Linked DNA regions of Homo sapiens: region 2 is linked to region 1. A link means that fine-mapping ties the variant in region 1 to the expression of a gene that starts in the linked region. Tissue or cell type: whole blood. Region 1 holds a variant in brackets; the other region holds the start of a gene. All regions are shown on one strand. Distances are from middle to middle.

What was found. PIP is the estimated chance that this variant, and not a neighbour inherited with it, causes the effect.
Region 2: it holds the start of DCUN1D1, and the variant in region 1 is fine-mapped to the expression of DCUN1D1 in whole blood (TOPMed, PIP above 0.99).

What each region holds. Positions count from the first base shown.
Region 1 is chr3:183,029,725-183,036,912 of GRCh38, reverse strand. MCCC1 (methylcrotonyl-CoA carboxylase subunit 1) reads left to right here. Exons shown (of 19, transcript NM_020166.5): 14 at 2,836-2,922. LOC124906309 (a long non-coding RNA gene) reads left to right here and starts at 2,929. Exons shown (of 2, transcript XR_007096188.1): 1 at 2,929-5,683; 2 at 5,742-6,329. The variant G/A (reference allele first, on the strand shown) is at 2,658.
Region 2 is chr3:182,976,747-182,984,802 of GRCh38, reverse strand. DCUN1D1 (defective in cullin neddylation 1 domain containing 1) reads left to right here and starts at 4,265. Exons shown (of 7, transcript NM_020640.4): 1 at 4,265-4,316. The coding sequence starts at 4,314. LOC105374246 (a long non-coding RNA gene) reads right to left here and starts at 3,996. Exons shown (of 2, transcript XR_924771.2): 1 at 3,316-3,996. RefSeq lists silencers at 3,977-4,416, 4,477-4,596.

The DNA of each region.
Region 1 (7,188 bases):
TCATGAGGTCAGGAGATCAAGACCATCCTGGCTAACACGGTGAAACCCCATCTCTACTAAAAATACAAAAAATTAGCTGGGCGTGGTGGCACGTGCCTGTGATCCCAGCACTTTAGAAGGCCAGGGTGGGCGGATCATGATGTCAGGAGATCAAGACCATCCTGGCTAACATGGTGAAACCCTGTCTCTACTAAAAATACAAAAAATAAGCTGGGTGTGGTGGCACGCACCTGTAGTCCCAGCTACTCGGGAGGCTGAGACAAGAGAATCGCTTGAACCCGGGAGGCGGAGGTTGCAGTGAACCGAGATCGCGCCACTGCACTCCAGCCTGGACAACAGGGCGAGAGTTCATCTAAAAAAAAAAAAAAAAAAAAAGGAAATGGATCTCTTTTCAGTCAAACACTTGTTCTCCCCACATCCTACACTAATTTCTTATCACTTCTTTTGTTCGCCACTCCTCATAGCCCTACTTTGTTTTGTCCTCTGTACCTGCAGCAACTCCCTTTGTCCCAGAGTCTCAAGACAATCTAAGACTGGAGACTTAGATTCCCCAGGGTTACCCATGACTTATTGTCGAATTACTTCCGCTTTTTCCATCCTGTGATTGAATGTCTACCTAGAGACTTCATAGTGTCATAGAATCCAAGCATAGGAAGGGCCATAGTGGGGTTCATCCTGGCTACCACACATATGCATTGCATCCCTACCCCAGCACACCCACTAAGCTGTTGCCCAACTTCTTCCTAACACCTTGGGAAACTGGAAGTTCATTACCTCATCAGGTAGCTTACAGTTTCAGTCAGTTCTCCATTAGAAAGTTCTGCCTTTAAACCAAACACCGCATGTTCTCACTCATAGGTGGGAATTGAACAATGAGATCACTTGGACACAGGGTGGGGAACATCACACACCGGGGCCTGTCGTGGGGTGGGGGGAGGGGGGAGGGATAGCATTAGGAGATATACCTAATGTAAATGACGAGTTAATAGGTGCAGCACACCAACATGACACATGTATACATATGTAACAAACCTGCACCTTGTGCACATGTACCCTAGAACTTAAAGTATTAAAAAAAAAAAGTTCTGCCCTTTAAATTGATACAAAATCTCAGCTCTCACATACTTTTTGCATTTCAGGCTAGCTCTGACTTTCGGAGCAAACAGAATTTTTAAAAATCTGATCTATTTTTCTCTTTTATTGGTAATTATTATATTACCCTATACAGTTTGAGCATCCCAAATCCCCAAATCCAAAATGCTCCAGAATCGGAAGCTTTTTCAGCACTAACATGATGCTCAAAGGAAATGCTCATTGGAACAGTTCAGATTCCAGATACTTGGATCAGGGATGCTAAGCCAGTTAAATATAATGCAAATAATCCAAAATCCAAAAAAAAAAAAAAAAATCTGAAATTCAAAACACTTCTGGTCCCAAGCATTTTGGGTAAGTGATACTGAACCCGTATTATTATAGGATCCTATCATTAGAATCTTTAATTTCTGAATTCATTTAGATTCATTCAAGATAGCTGTATGGAAAGCTTAAAATGTAAAATGTTTTAAGTCCCGAAAACTGCATCTTTAGAAGATTTGTGCTCTATCCTCATTTTATCCTTTTACATTGAATGAAAATGCATCTAAATACGTCCCATGTGGTATTCCTGAGCCTGACCTTAACGTTTTTAGAATGGAACGTTGTCTTACTGTGACCTTCCTTTTGAAAGTTTATAATTGGTACAGATATGAGGTTCAGAATAAATTGCATCAGCTTAGCTATGCTGAAGCTCCTGGATATTGTCCAATAGAGGATATACACCCAAATGCCTATAAGGGGCCAGGCGCGGTGGCTCATGCCTGTAATCCCAACACTTTGAGAGGCCCAGGGCGGGTGGATCACTTAAGGTCAGGAGTTTGAGACCAGCCTGGCCAACATGGTGAAACCCCATCTCCACTAAAAATAGAAAAGTTAGCCAGCTGTGGTGGCACCCACCTGTAATCCCAGCTACTCTGGAGGCTGAGGCAGGAGAATCACTTGAACCCAGGAGGTGGAGGTTGCAGTGAGCCAAGATCATGCCACTGCACTCCATCCTGGGCGACAGAACGAGACTCGTCTCAAAAAAGAAAAAAAAAAAAGGCCTATAAGGGCTGGGCCAACAACATAAAAACATAAAAGAGTAAAAGAGGCCAGGTGAAAGAAAAATAGTGAATAGTAGAGACTGGTGACCTGGAATGAATTTGCCCCATCAAAAGGTGGTGACTGTGGTACAGTTTATGCCACTATGGGATTAGAGTTTAGATTGCAAATATTCAGATTCTTCAATAGAAGCTAGAATTTTTCACATGAAATTTCATAAGATGTAAACAAAACCAGCCCTTTAAACTTAACAAGAAGAACAAAAAAAGCACATCTGAGCTGCCAGTTTAGGACGTGTGTTTTTTTGTTTTTTTTTTTTTTTGAGACGGAGTCTTGCTCTGTCGCCCAGGCTGGATCCGGTGCAGTGGCGCAATCTTGGCTCACTGCAAGCTCCACCTCCCGGATTCACGCCATTCTCCTGCCTCAGCCTCCAGAGTAGCTGGGACTAGAGGCGCCCGTCACCATGCCCAGCTAATTTTTTTGTATTTTTAGTAGAGACGGGGTTTCACCGTGTTAGCTAG[G/A]ATGGTCTCGATCTCCTGACCTCATGATCCGCCCGCCTTGGCCTCCCAAAGTGCTGGGATTACAGGCATGAGCCACTGTGCCCGGCCAGCACTTGCATTTTATGTTTTCTTTTGTAAGGTGTAAATTTCATAGGCTTGATACTCATAAGTTTGTTACTGAATTTTAAATTTTTTCTAGATCAATTCTCTCCATTTTCGTCTAGCAGTGGAAGAAGACTGAATATCTCGTATACCAGAAACATGACTCTTAAAGATGGTAAAAACAGTAAGTAATGTTTCATTAAAAGAGAAATGTGAGTCATAGAAATGTATCACATTAATCTGAAAAAGAGGATTCCAGCCTGGCCATGATCAGTCAGTTACATTTTTTAAATGCCTAGGCTAAACATTGGAGGGAAATATGCCAATATAATAGAATTGATTGGCTCTGGGTAGTAGAGTTGATGGTATTTGCTTTTCTTCTTTACACTTTTTAAAAATTTTGTAAATATTCTAAAAATATGTCATAAAATAAACATAGCAAAACAGCTGAAATGAAATATGCCAGAATGTTAGAAATATGCCCAAAAAAACCTCTTTTTCCCCAATTCTTTGTACTTTTTTTTTTGCTTTGCAATTTTTCTGCAGCGAGAATGTATTACTTTTAAATAAGAAAAACAGTTTTCAAAACTATGTCAGAGAGGGACGATTACCCACTGCCCATGCAGTGTTTCAGGGGTTTCAGGTGGAAGTGGGTCACTGCAGAGCTGTAATTTATTAAGTGCCTTATCTGATGTAAGTTTTTATCTTCACAACGTAAATGAGGGGGAGTCGCTGTTATACCCACGTATGGAAGATGAAAGCATGGATGGTAAGGCACAGAAGTGAAGTAGTTTAGTCAAGGCTAGTGAGTGGCAGAACTAGGATTCACACCTACTCTTTGTGACATTGACTCTTAGGCTGTTTCCACCACTTTTCCAGTAGAAAATTGATTTTTGATTGTAAACTAATTTGAGTTGGCTCGACTTAGTGACTGATTTTCTTTAACTGATGTCAAAAGAGGCTGACGCTTAAGCCAGAAGGCAGTTTATAAACTTTTGGCTGGAGCAGTGTAGCAGCAGGACCAGAATTCTATGATAGCTGGTCACTGTATCCCTTCTGCTGTGAGACAGTTTGTGTGGGAGGCCCAATGGGCAGAGTCAGAGCTCAGAATCCTGGCTAACCTTGAATGTGACATGTCATTGAACTGTGACAGTTCTGGTATAAAAATATGCCTCCCAGGTAGAGCAGAATACTTTCACCAGCTGATCACAGAACGCTCTTCCTTGGACAGAGGAAAATCTCTTTTACTTCACCTCTATGAAGACACTCACCCAGTAACAAATTTTTTTTTTTTTTTTTTTGACACAGACTCTGGCTCTGTTGCCCAGGCTGGAGTGCAGTGGCACGATCTTGGCTCACTGCAAGCTCCACCTCCTGGGTTCGTGCCATTCTCATGCCTCAGCCTCCCGAGTATCTGAGACTACAGGCACCCACCACCACGCCCGGCTAAGTTTTTGTATTTTTAGTAGAGACAGGGTTTCACCATTTTAGCCAGGATAGTCTCGATCTCCTGACCTTATGATCCACTCACCTCAGCCTCCCAAAGTGCTGGGATTACAGGCGTGAGCCACCATGCCAGCCAGTAACAAATATTTTGTTCACACAAGTTTATTGGGTTACAGCTCTTCAGTTATTTTTCAATCCTGAGCCTAGATGGTCATTATCTTAAGTGCATTGGGCATATTGTTAAGCCTTTATAATGAAAATTTGTAAACATCTTTATATAGTAGCATTCTGCAAATGGTTAACCCATCCATTTATGCTCATTTCATCCTAAAAAATACAACCCCCCAAATCTGGAAGTATCTTATTCTAGACTCCTATATGCTGAATGCAAATATCAAAAGCGGTAAAGTTTCACTGGCTTCTTCAACCTGAATTGAACAGAAGAATTACATATTTGATTGTAATTCATATAGGCCAACTGTGTTATTTGGCATGGCTCTTCACTAAAGCACCAAGCACTGATTTGAAGTATGTTGCATTTTTTGGAATTAAAAAAAGTTTTCATGAAAAAATAAATACATAATTGAAAAGCCAACATGATTGCTGTTCACTACACCCTTTTGGCAGTATTCTATGAAAATAATCCAAGTCTGTATGTAAGAGCTTTCAGAAAATGATACATAGCTAAGTCTCCAAAAAATGCTAATAAGCAATGACCACAATTAAATAGAATGCATGAAACAGGAAGCTTAAGAGACCAGGCTGGTCACAGTGGCTCACACCTGTAATCTCAGCACTTTGGGAGGCCAAGGCGGGAGGATTGCTTGAGGGCAGGAGTTTGAGATCAGCCTAGGTGACATAGTGAGATCCTGTCCCTATTTATAAAATAAAAATTTTTAAAAAGGAAAAAAAAAAAAAAAGATACCAGAAGTGCCAGGCACGGTATCTCCCACCCGTAACCCCAGCACTTTGGGAGGCTGAGGCAGGTGGATCACGAGGTCAGGAGATGGAGACCATCCTGGCTAACATGGTGAAACCCTGTCTCTCCTAAAAAGTACAAAAAATTAGCCAGGCATGGTGGTGGGCGCCTGTAGTCCCAGCTACTCAGGAGGCTGAGGCAGGAGAATGGCATGAACCTGGGAGGTGGAGCTTGCAGTGAGCCGAGATTGCACCACTGCACTCCAGCCTGGGCGACAGAGCGGGACCCTGTCCCAAAAAAAAAAAAAAAAAAAAAAAAGGTGCCAGAAGCATTTATGAGTCCAAAGCAGAAGCAACTTCTAGTGACCACAGTGAGAATGACCAACTATTTTAAGTATTCAAGGCTTGCAAGCTATTCTTACTTTGCTACTAGAGGCCACGTTTCACAGAACCCTGCCTAAACTCAATGATAATAGCTAAGATTTATTGAGTTTTTGGTTTATGTCAGATACTGTATTAAACACTTTCCAAAGATTGTTTCATTTGCATTTTCAGAAAAGGCCAATGAGATTAGTGTTATTGTTAGTGTGAACTTTATAAATTACTAATCTCTGTGAGCCAAGGTCAAGGCTCAGAGAGATTAGTAATTTTCCAAAAGTCACACCAGAAGTTATTGGTGGAGTCAGGGTTTGAACCCACACTCCAGGATACACGTGCTGACCTAATACTGCAGGTGCCACACTTGATACCTTCTTAAATGCATGAGAGGATGTTTAAGGTCCTCTTATATGTGACAAGAGATATCTAGGGTAGGAGTTTTTTTGGTAGTGTCTTTACTGTGATCTGTTGGCATTCGCGCCAGTTAAATACATGTCGTATTTTATAAATTCAAAGAAAATGGCCGTGGTGTAACTGGAGGCACTTTCTGATAAGAAGAGTAAAAGCCTGTTGACATGATATAGGGTGGAGAGTTTTATTCATTCATACATTCAATACAAAGTTTTTGATAAAATAGATATGCCAAGTGATGTGGAGAAGAGAAGGAAATGTCTTTGTCCCTGCTTTTTTTCTGTTAAGGAATTTGCCATTTGGAAGTGTGTATGTTGAGAAGCTGGAGAGCATGATGGTCAAGAGTGCGGGCCCTGGAGTTCCTGTACTTTAGTATTTGACTTTTGTGAACATTTTTATTTTGATAATTTTTCTGAAACAACTGATAGAGAGGAAAATCACTCTTTGTAAACCAGGATGAGGAGAGAATCATAGTGGGTGTTTTGTATGCAGAAGGCTAAATGTTCAGAGGAGGGAGAAATTAAGCTGCCCAGGCCAACTCTTCCCAAGGACAGTGAGGCTGATGTGAATGGGCAATGGGGTTTCTGTGCTGTGGCAGGGCACCAGCAGCGTAGTGAAGGAGAAGCGTGAGCACAGAGCCACAGTGCAGGGAAAGCTGGGGGCATATATGGGGAATTTTTTTTGTGTGTATTGGTTTTTTGTGTTTTGTTTTGAGACGGAGTCTCTCATTCTGTTGCCCAGGCAGGAGTGCCGTGGTATGATCTCGGCTCACTGCAACTTCTGCCTCCCGGGTTCAAGCGATTCTCCTGCCTCAGCCTCCCAAGTAGCTGGGACTACAGGTGTGTGCCACCATGCCCAGCTAATTTTTGTGTTTTTAGTAGAGATGGGGTTTCACCATGTTGGCCAGGCTGGTCTCGAATTCCTGACCTCAGGCTATCCGCCCACCTCGGCCTCCCAAAGTACTGGGATTACAGGTGTGAGCCACCTCCCCAGGCCTAGAGAATGTTAATTGTCCCACTTTCCTATTTGGGTGGAGCATCAGGCCGTCCATGGAGGAGAATGGTAGGAAATAAGACTGAGAGGGTGGGGCCTCCAATATCAGGCCAAGTATTTGGAATGGGGTCGGAACATCAGCTCTGACTATTGAGATGAGAAGCAGGAAGACCCCAGAGGACCTCCTCAGATTCAGCCAGGCCTGAGGCAGTGGGGCCTGAGGCAGGGTAGAGCAGTAGGAATGGAAGGAAGAGATGCATAGGATAGGGAAGAATTTGGCAGCTTTGTAGTAACTGTCCCTATT
Region 2 (8,056 bases), 53 kb after region 1:
GATTCTAGAAGTATGAAATCTTTACTTTTACATGTTTCTTTGAGCAGAACTGCAACTATTTTATCAGTGAATATTATGTCTTAATATGAATTTTTAAGCTTTTGTGGCAAGAAGTATTTACGTATTTATGAGCACTATATTAATTTTTTCATCGTTTTAGGTATACAGTGAGAGGGAGTGTGTGTGTATGTGTTGGGGGTGGTGGGGTAGAGAGAGGAGGAGAGATAGACAAGATAGGCAATTTTGGCTAGATGTTTCCATCTTATTTCTTATTATTGTACTGAGATTGTTGCTATGGAAAATAGTCATTAGAACTCCTGTACTTGAAAAAACTCAAAGCCTTAACTTAAATATTTGAAACATGACAAAAAAAGTAATACGAGAATATTAGTTAATATTATTTTGTTAAATATTGTAATTTATACTTTATCTTCAGGATGCTTTTCCATTTAAAAAATAATCAGGACAATTTTAACAAATATGTTTATCTCACCCAATCATGATGATTGAGTAATAATTCTCCATTTCACATTCAGTACTGTAGCCAGGAAGTACAGTAATGGATACAGTTGCTACTACATTTACCATCTGACCATATGGTATAACATACATCTGCCAAGGAGAACAAGCATTCCTTTACAATAACAAACAATATAGGCACTGTCTTAAGACAGACATCAGTTACATATCTCTTTCTTTTCATTAATTTATCCCACTGTGACTATGTAGCACATATATGTCAGGCACTCACTTTGACACTGAAAACTCAAAGAATTGTGCAACCAGGTCTCTGACCTTAAGCAGTGCAGTCTGGCAGGGGAGATGGTCATGTTGGCAAATGCTTATCATATGAATGTCATAAGTGTAACAAAAGTATATGTAAGGTGTGGGGAGAAACTTGCCTAACTGCTGGAATCCAAGGATCAGGTCAGGAGACAATCATAGAGAAGATGGTCTTTGAGTTGAGTACTGAGATCTTGGTGGGAAATATAATGTGGTAATCAAGAGAATAGACTAACCAGATAGCCAGACTATCAGGTTTCAAATCCTAGCTCTGCTACTTGCTAGCTAGGGAATCTCTTTTTTTTTTTCTTTGAGGTGGAATCTCATTCTTCTTGCCCAGGCTGGAGTGCAGTGGCGCGATCTCAGCTCACTGCAACCTCTGCCTCCAGGGTTCAAGCGATTCTCCTGCCTCAGCCTCCGGACTAGCTGGGATTGCAGGCATGCGCAACCATGCCCGGTTAATTTTAGTAGAGATGGGATTTCGCCATGTTGGCCAGGCTGGTCTCGAACTCCTGAACTTAAGTTATCTGCCCGCCTTGGCATCCCCAAGTGCTGGGATTACAGGCGTGAGCCACTGCGCCTGGCCTAGCTAGGGAATTTTAGGCATATTATTTAATCTCTCTGTGCTTCCATTTTCCCCTTTGTAGGATGGGCGTAATAGCTGGGCATGCTCATAGGGTAGAAGTGAGGTTATATGAGTTAGTATGTGTCGCAGTGAGGATTACATAAATTAGTATGTGTCATGGGCTCAGTCAGTATTAGCTAGGAGGCCAGGGATAGGAGAATTGGAGAAAGCAAGGAAACATGCAGAGGTATGGCAGTCTTGGTTTGTGAAAACTGAAATATGAGGTGCATTTGGGTGGAGGGTGGTGGAAAATGGCAATGGGAATGGATAGATCAGAGGAGAGAACTTTAATGCCATTCCAGAGGCTCATGCTTATGCAGCTCTTGGAGAATTTTACGGACAAATTCACATTTGCATTATAGAAAGACAACTATGGAGCAGTGGAGAAGGAGTAGAGGCTGGAAGATTAGGTAAGAAGTTACTGATGAGGAGAGATGATAAAGAATTGGCTGGCCAGGCGCGGTGGCTCACGCCTGTGATCCCAGTACTTTGGGAGACCGAGGTGGGGCAGATCATGAGGTCAGGAGTTCGAGACCAGCCTGACAAACATGGTGAAACCCTGTTTCTATTAAAAATGCAAAAAGTAGCTGGGCATGGTGGCACACATCTGTAATCCCAGCTACTCGGTGGGGGCTGAGACAGGAGAATCGCTTGAACCTGGGAGGCGGAGGTTGCAGTGAGCTGAGATTGCGCCATTGTACTCCAGCCTGGGTGACAGAACTAGACTCCATCTCAAAAACAAACAAAAAAATACAACAACAAAAAGAATTGGCTAAGAAATAGAAGGCAGGGTGCAGATTTAAAAGTCATTTAGGAGGGAAAACTGGTGAGATGCGGAGTAAGGGGATGAGGCAGGAAGAGTGGTGGATGATTCTTAGATTTCTAGTTTGGATGATTTGATAAAAGGCAGGAGGAAAAGTGGGTTTGGGGATAAAGTTTTAGATTTGGTGAGCTTGATGGACCTGTGAAATGACCAGAATGAGTGTTTAGGCCTGTCACTTGGGGACTGGAAGTCAAGATTTGAGATTCCTCTTGATATGGGCAGTAGTTGACGTGGGAATGTGAGTGACAGCGTGACACAGGCTGTATACAGAAGGACGTTCAGGAATGGTCAGGAAAGCCTAAATTGAGTACAGCCAGCAAAGGAGAGTGGTCAGAGTAAAGAGGAGATGCAGGAGAAGGTGGAGTCATGGAAAATGAACAGGAAATTCAAGGAGGAAGTGTCCAAACGCAGGCGAGAGGTCAATTAGAATAACTAAGGCCTGTACCTTGGTAGAGCTTAGGAAAACCCACAAACGATTATTTCAATGGAGTAGAACAGATTGGAGTAAGAGATACAGTGAATCCTCCTCATTAACGCCCTAGGTGTTAATACTTTAGGTCAAAAGCTAGGTGAATTCCTGGAGAACCTCCGTGGATGTAGTCCAGTTTCAGGCTTGCTGCATGAGGCAGATCTGGCTTCTCCTTGCAGGACTATTTACCCAGAGCCCAGCAAGGAGCTTGGCACATTCACATGCATTCTTTAAATATTGGGGGAAAGAATGGATGAACGGTTTGTGGCCGCCAGAAACCTGCCTTGGTACAGCGCTGGGCGCTCCCAGTACATGGCTAGCTCCAGGAAGTTAGGAGGCCTTTGGGAGTTACCAAAGAAGTTCTGTTGTTTTGGTAAGAACAAATTCATTAGTTATAGGGTTGATCTGGTCGTTTAATGCCTGTGCTGGTGATGATGGTGATAACGGGTCTACTCAGGTGGGTCCTGTTCTGAAACGTAGGTAAGCTCTTGGTACAGTTTCAGATGTGACTTTCTGAGTGAGTTTGCTTTCTTAGCTGTTTTATTTCCTTCCTGTGTGAAGGTGTCTTATCTCTCCAACTGGATACTACATTTCTGAAGGGCAAGGACCACTTACTCCACAGGAGTCTTCTGTCCTCCTTGCAGCACGAATTTGTCCACTTGATCCTCAGCTCAGAATCCTAGTGCTCCTCAGCCTCAGTTGATTTAACGCCCAGGGCAGGTCACACCTGGACTGTCCGCCCTGCGTGACTAGACCCTCAGTGAAAAAATGTGTAGTTGCTTCCCGAAACTTATCCTGGGCGGGCCGAACTGAGGGGATACTGAGAGCTAGCAGTAGGCAGGCAACCTGGACTCCCGCAGCCCGGCCTTGGGTCTCAGTGCACCCCACCCCATCTCACTATAGGGTTACCCCAACTGTCTCCCAGTAGACAGGTCTGGGGAGAGCCTGGTCCTCACTAATGGAGTGACAGCCACCGCAGGGGGGGGACTAAGGTCTCCCCTGGGATGCCCACGCGAGGGAACTGATGTAGGTCTGATACTGAGATTGGGGGGAAAAAGAAGAAAACACGGGGCAGGGGGAGGTGTTTCCACTATCTTCTCCCTTTTTTTGATACTGATGGGGAGGGGAGGTCTGGGATGGATGAAGCTCCTCAACCATCCGTTTCAGCCGCCCCCAGCTGCTCAACTTATCCGCCGCCGCTCGTGCCCGCTTCCAGCCTGCGTAGACCCGGCCGTGGTCGTCCGGAAGGAACCGCGTAGGAAACGGAGGTGGGGTGTCCCCCGGCGCCCCCACCAGAGACCGCCCGGCGCGGCAGGAGGATGTCGGCGCGCGGAGGGCTTGCGTCGCCCGCCCCTCCCCCGCCGCGCCCCCCGCCCCCGCCCACTCCCCGGGGGACCCCCGCGCCCGGGGGAAGCCCCGCGCGGGGCGCCCTCCGCCTGCCTCCGTCCCTCCGCCTCCCCGAGGTCCGGGGCTGCCTCCTCGGGCCGCGCCGGGCCGCCCCGCACTGCGCATGAGCGGGAGCCGGGCAAGCCCGTGAGAGGAGCCGCCGCCGCCGCCGCCGTCCATTCGCTGCGGAGCCGGAGGAGGAGGGGAGAGGCCTGGAGGACACCAACATGGTGAGGCACTGCGGCCGCCCGCCCGCCCTGCCGGCTGGGGGCCGGCGCTGCCGCGCACCCCCGCCCCGGCCGCCCTCCGTCCCGCGGCGACCCTGCAGCCCCGAGCCTCGGCCCGCGGCCTCCGTCCCGCTCCCAGGCGGGGGCTCTCCTGCCTGCCTCTCCCTTCCTCCTTCGCCCCTTCCCGCCCGGGCGCAGCCGCTACGCGAGAGCCGAGGAGGCGGAGCGGAGCCGGGCCTAGTCGGGAGCCCCGGGGAGTTTGGGGCGCGGGGAGCGGCCCCGGTGCCCCTTGCCGGGGCCCGGCGCGGGTGGGGGAGGCGTTGGGGCGGGGGGAGGGGAGGGGGCAACGGCCTTGCCCCTGCCCCTCTGCCGGCTCCATTGTGTCTGGTCGGGGACTGGGGTCTGGGGTTCCGGGTGAGTAGCCTCCCCCCGCCCCGAAGCCGGGGCTTCCCTCTCCGCCCGGCCGGGGAGAAGGAAAGACTTTCCCGGCGCGCCTCTCCCTCCTCCGCTCCCGGCTCCAATACCCCGCAAGTCTCCCAGGCAGTTTTGCTTGGGGCGGGGTATCAGCCCTTTTCCTTTCTCCATCACCTCTCGAGGCGTCCCATGCTTTTGGAGAAGGAGAGTTTCCCCGGCCAGTTGGTGGAGGTTATATTTACCTCTCTACTGAAAACATGGGAGACTGCTGAGCTTGGGGGAGGGGGTACGGAAGTGCAACCTGTTCTCATTTCATAAAATTAGGGAACACAGACTAGCGAGCGCCCTTTCGAGCACCTATTTTATTTGCTTGGGGGTGGGAGGAGTAATTGCTTTATTATAGTAGTTAAGGGCCATTTGTGATTTTTTTTAAAACAGTTTGTCAAGTTACTCTCCTTTTTTGTTTGGGGGGGGGAAAAAGTCCTCTCCAGGCTTGCAGACCCTTGTGGTCGAGTTGTTTACTTTGGTAATTAAGTACCTGACTCTGCTGGACGCTCTTCGCGTTTCAGAAGCGCTGTTTGGCATTGTACAGTCTGAGCGTGAGTTGAATTCCGTGCAGGTTACTGTATGAATAGTAAAAATGATATTGTTGTCCTTTGCTCGTGGGGAACATAAAGGCCTCTTTGAGGAGGGTGTGTGTGCGCGCCTGTGTTAAGGGAATGCTCCAGTGTCTTTGTTTTTAGTTGGTCTTATTTTTGCTGAATGACACTTCTAGTCCCATCCTCCAGCTTGGCAGTATTTTGTTGTCATGTATGGATATATGGTTTAGTCTGACACATATTTAACACTTATGTTCTGTGGCAAGTTGTGTAGGAATTTACAGTTTGAATTGGTAAGAAAACTTTAAAGTGCAGGTTAATGTATAGATTAGTATTACAGTGTTCAGAGATCCACCAGGCAGTCTAAACAGTTTCTAGTTTCTTAAGTATTTAGATGGTCATAGACATTACTCCTGAAGTTTCCAGACTCTTAGCATTTAGATAAGTATAGTAAGCTCGAAGTAATGACGTTAATTCCCTGGGAAACACTCAGCCACAGCTGAAATGTGTGCTCTTCAGGATGGTCTCCAGATCCGCATCATCCCCTAGACAGTGGGGTCCCGGAAATACTCATCACCTGTTCAGGAATTCAGGCATCAAGTGGTTCGTAGGGAGAGTTCAGCTTGTAAGCTTCTATTCTTTTGGTTAATATTAAAATTAGCTAGTTTTGAAACTTAGCCATAACCCATGTAATTCTACCAGTGGTGACAAGATATTAATTTAAAACATATCCTGTGGCTGAACTCAGTTTATGTCATGAGAATTGTCGTGATATTCTCTGGTTTAGCTAACTCACCGTAGGGGCTGGGCACGGTGGCTCATGCCTGTAATCCCAGCACCCTGGGTCACCGAAGCAGGAGGATTGCTTGAGAGCCTAGGAGTTTGAGACCAGCCTGCGCAACATAGTAGTGAGACTCCATCCCAAGGAAAAAAAATAGCCAAGCATGCTGGTGCTAGCCTGTGGTTGCCCCTACTCCAGAGGATGAGGTGGGAGGATTACTTGAGCTGGGAGGTTGAGGCTGCTGTGAGCCCTGCCACTGCACCACTCCAGCCTGGCTAACAGACCTTGTCTCTTAAAAAAAATAATAAGAAAGGAAAGAGACTCACCACTGGCCCTAATCGAAGTTAGGCAGTAAGAATTTTATAGTTAAGAAGTTGTTTCATTATAAAGTTATCTTACATATATTTGTTTCTTTATGCAGTTTCGGGGCTGTGAGTTTTTTGGTGTCTGTAGCTGCAGCCCATTTCCAGAGCACATGTTATTGTCAGTTCTAGAGCAAACTTAAATGATGGGATATTTGAAATACTTTGTATAAGTAAAAAAGTTCTGTTAACTTCCTCCCTCCCCCCACACACAGACTAAAAACGACTCCAAAATTAGATAATATTCTGTTACTTTGGAACTTGTTTTTTGTTGTTGTTGTTTTTTTTTTTTTGAGATGGAGTTTTTGCTCTGTTGCCCAGGCTGGAGTGCAGTGGTGCAATCTTGGCTCACTGCAACCCGTGCCTCCTGGGTTCAAGCGATTCTCCAGCCTAAGCCTCCCAAGTAGCTGGGATTATAGGTGCCCGCCAACATACCCGGCTGATTTTTGTATTTTTAGTAGAGACGAGGTTTCACTATGTTGACCTGGCTGGTCTCGAACTCTTGACTTCAGGTGATCCACCTGCCTCGGCCGCCCAAGGTGCTAGGATTACAGGCGTGAGCCACCACGCCAGCCTGAAACATATTTTTAAAAAGTGTTCGGCTGAGTGCAGTGGCTCACGCCTGTAATCCCAGCACTTTGGGAGGCCAAGGTGGGCGGATCACAAGGTCAAGAGTTTGAGACCAGCCTGGCCAATACGGTGAAACCCCGTCTCTACTAAAAATACAAAAATTAGCCAGGCGTGGTGGTGGGGGCCTGTAGTCTCAGCTACTCAGGAGGCTGAGGCGGGAGAATCACTGGAACCCAGAGGAGGAGGTTGCAGTGAGCCGAGATCGCGTCATTGCACTCCAGCCTGGGCGAGAGCGAGACTCCGTCTCAAAAAAAAAAAAGTGTTCAAAACGTGTGGGTTGTTTTATTTATAAGATGGCAGGATTGGACTTGATGATTTCTAAAGTTTCATCCAGCATAGACATTTTATGATTCTAATGATTTTTAGACTCATAGCATCATAGAATTTTTAGACCTGAAATAGACTCAGAGATCATCTAATTACTCCTCCCCATTTTTACACAAGAAGAAATTGAATATCAAGGAGGTTTTGAGGTTCAGGTTTGCAGGATTGTTGGTTGCAGAACTGAAACTATTTTCTCCTGGTCTACCATTTCCCCCAGTATTATCTGTTAACTCATATGAAATCCAGAAAATTACATTTGAAATTAAATCATATCCATCACTTAAACACAGGAAACCCCATGTTATTTATGAATATGTTAAGTAACAAAATTCATATTAATGGGTGATCAATGATGTTAATGCCTATGTTTTCAATGGCTTTAAATATATATGAACTTTGAAATTTAAGATTATGTTGTCAACAAATACTAGAATTTGTAAATTCAAATACATGTAGGTCTATTCAAGGTTGTCTTTTCATAACTTGTTGCACATTCTTTGCATGTCTACAAATAAAGGAGGTTATCAGTTCTTTTCAGTGATTATTATACGTCTGCTGTGTGCTAGAGATAGTGTTAGGCACTGAAGGGATGTATATATCACAGAAGAGACAAAAATCCTCACTCTGGTGAGG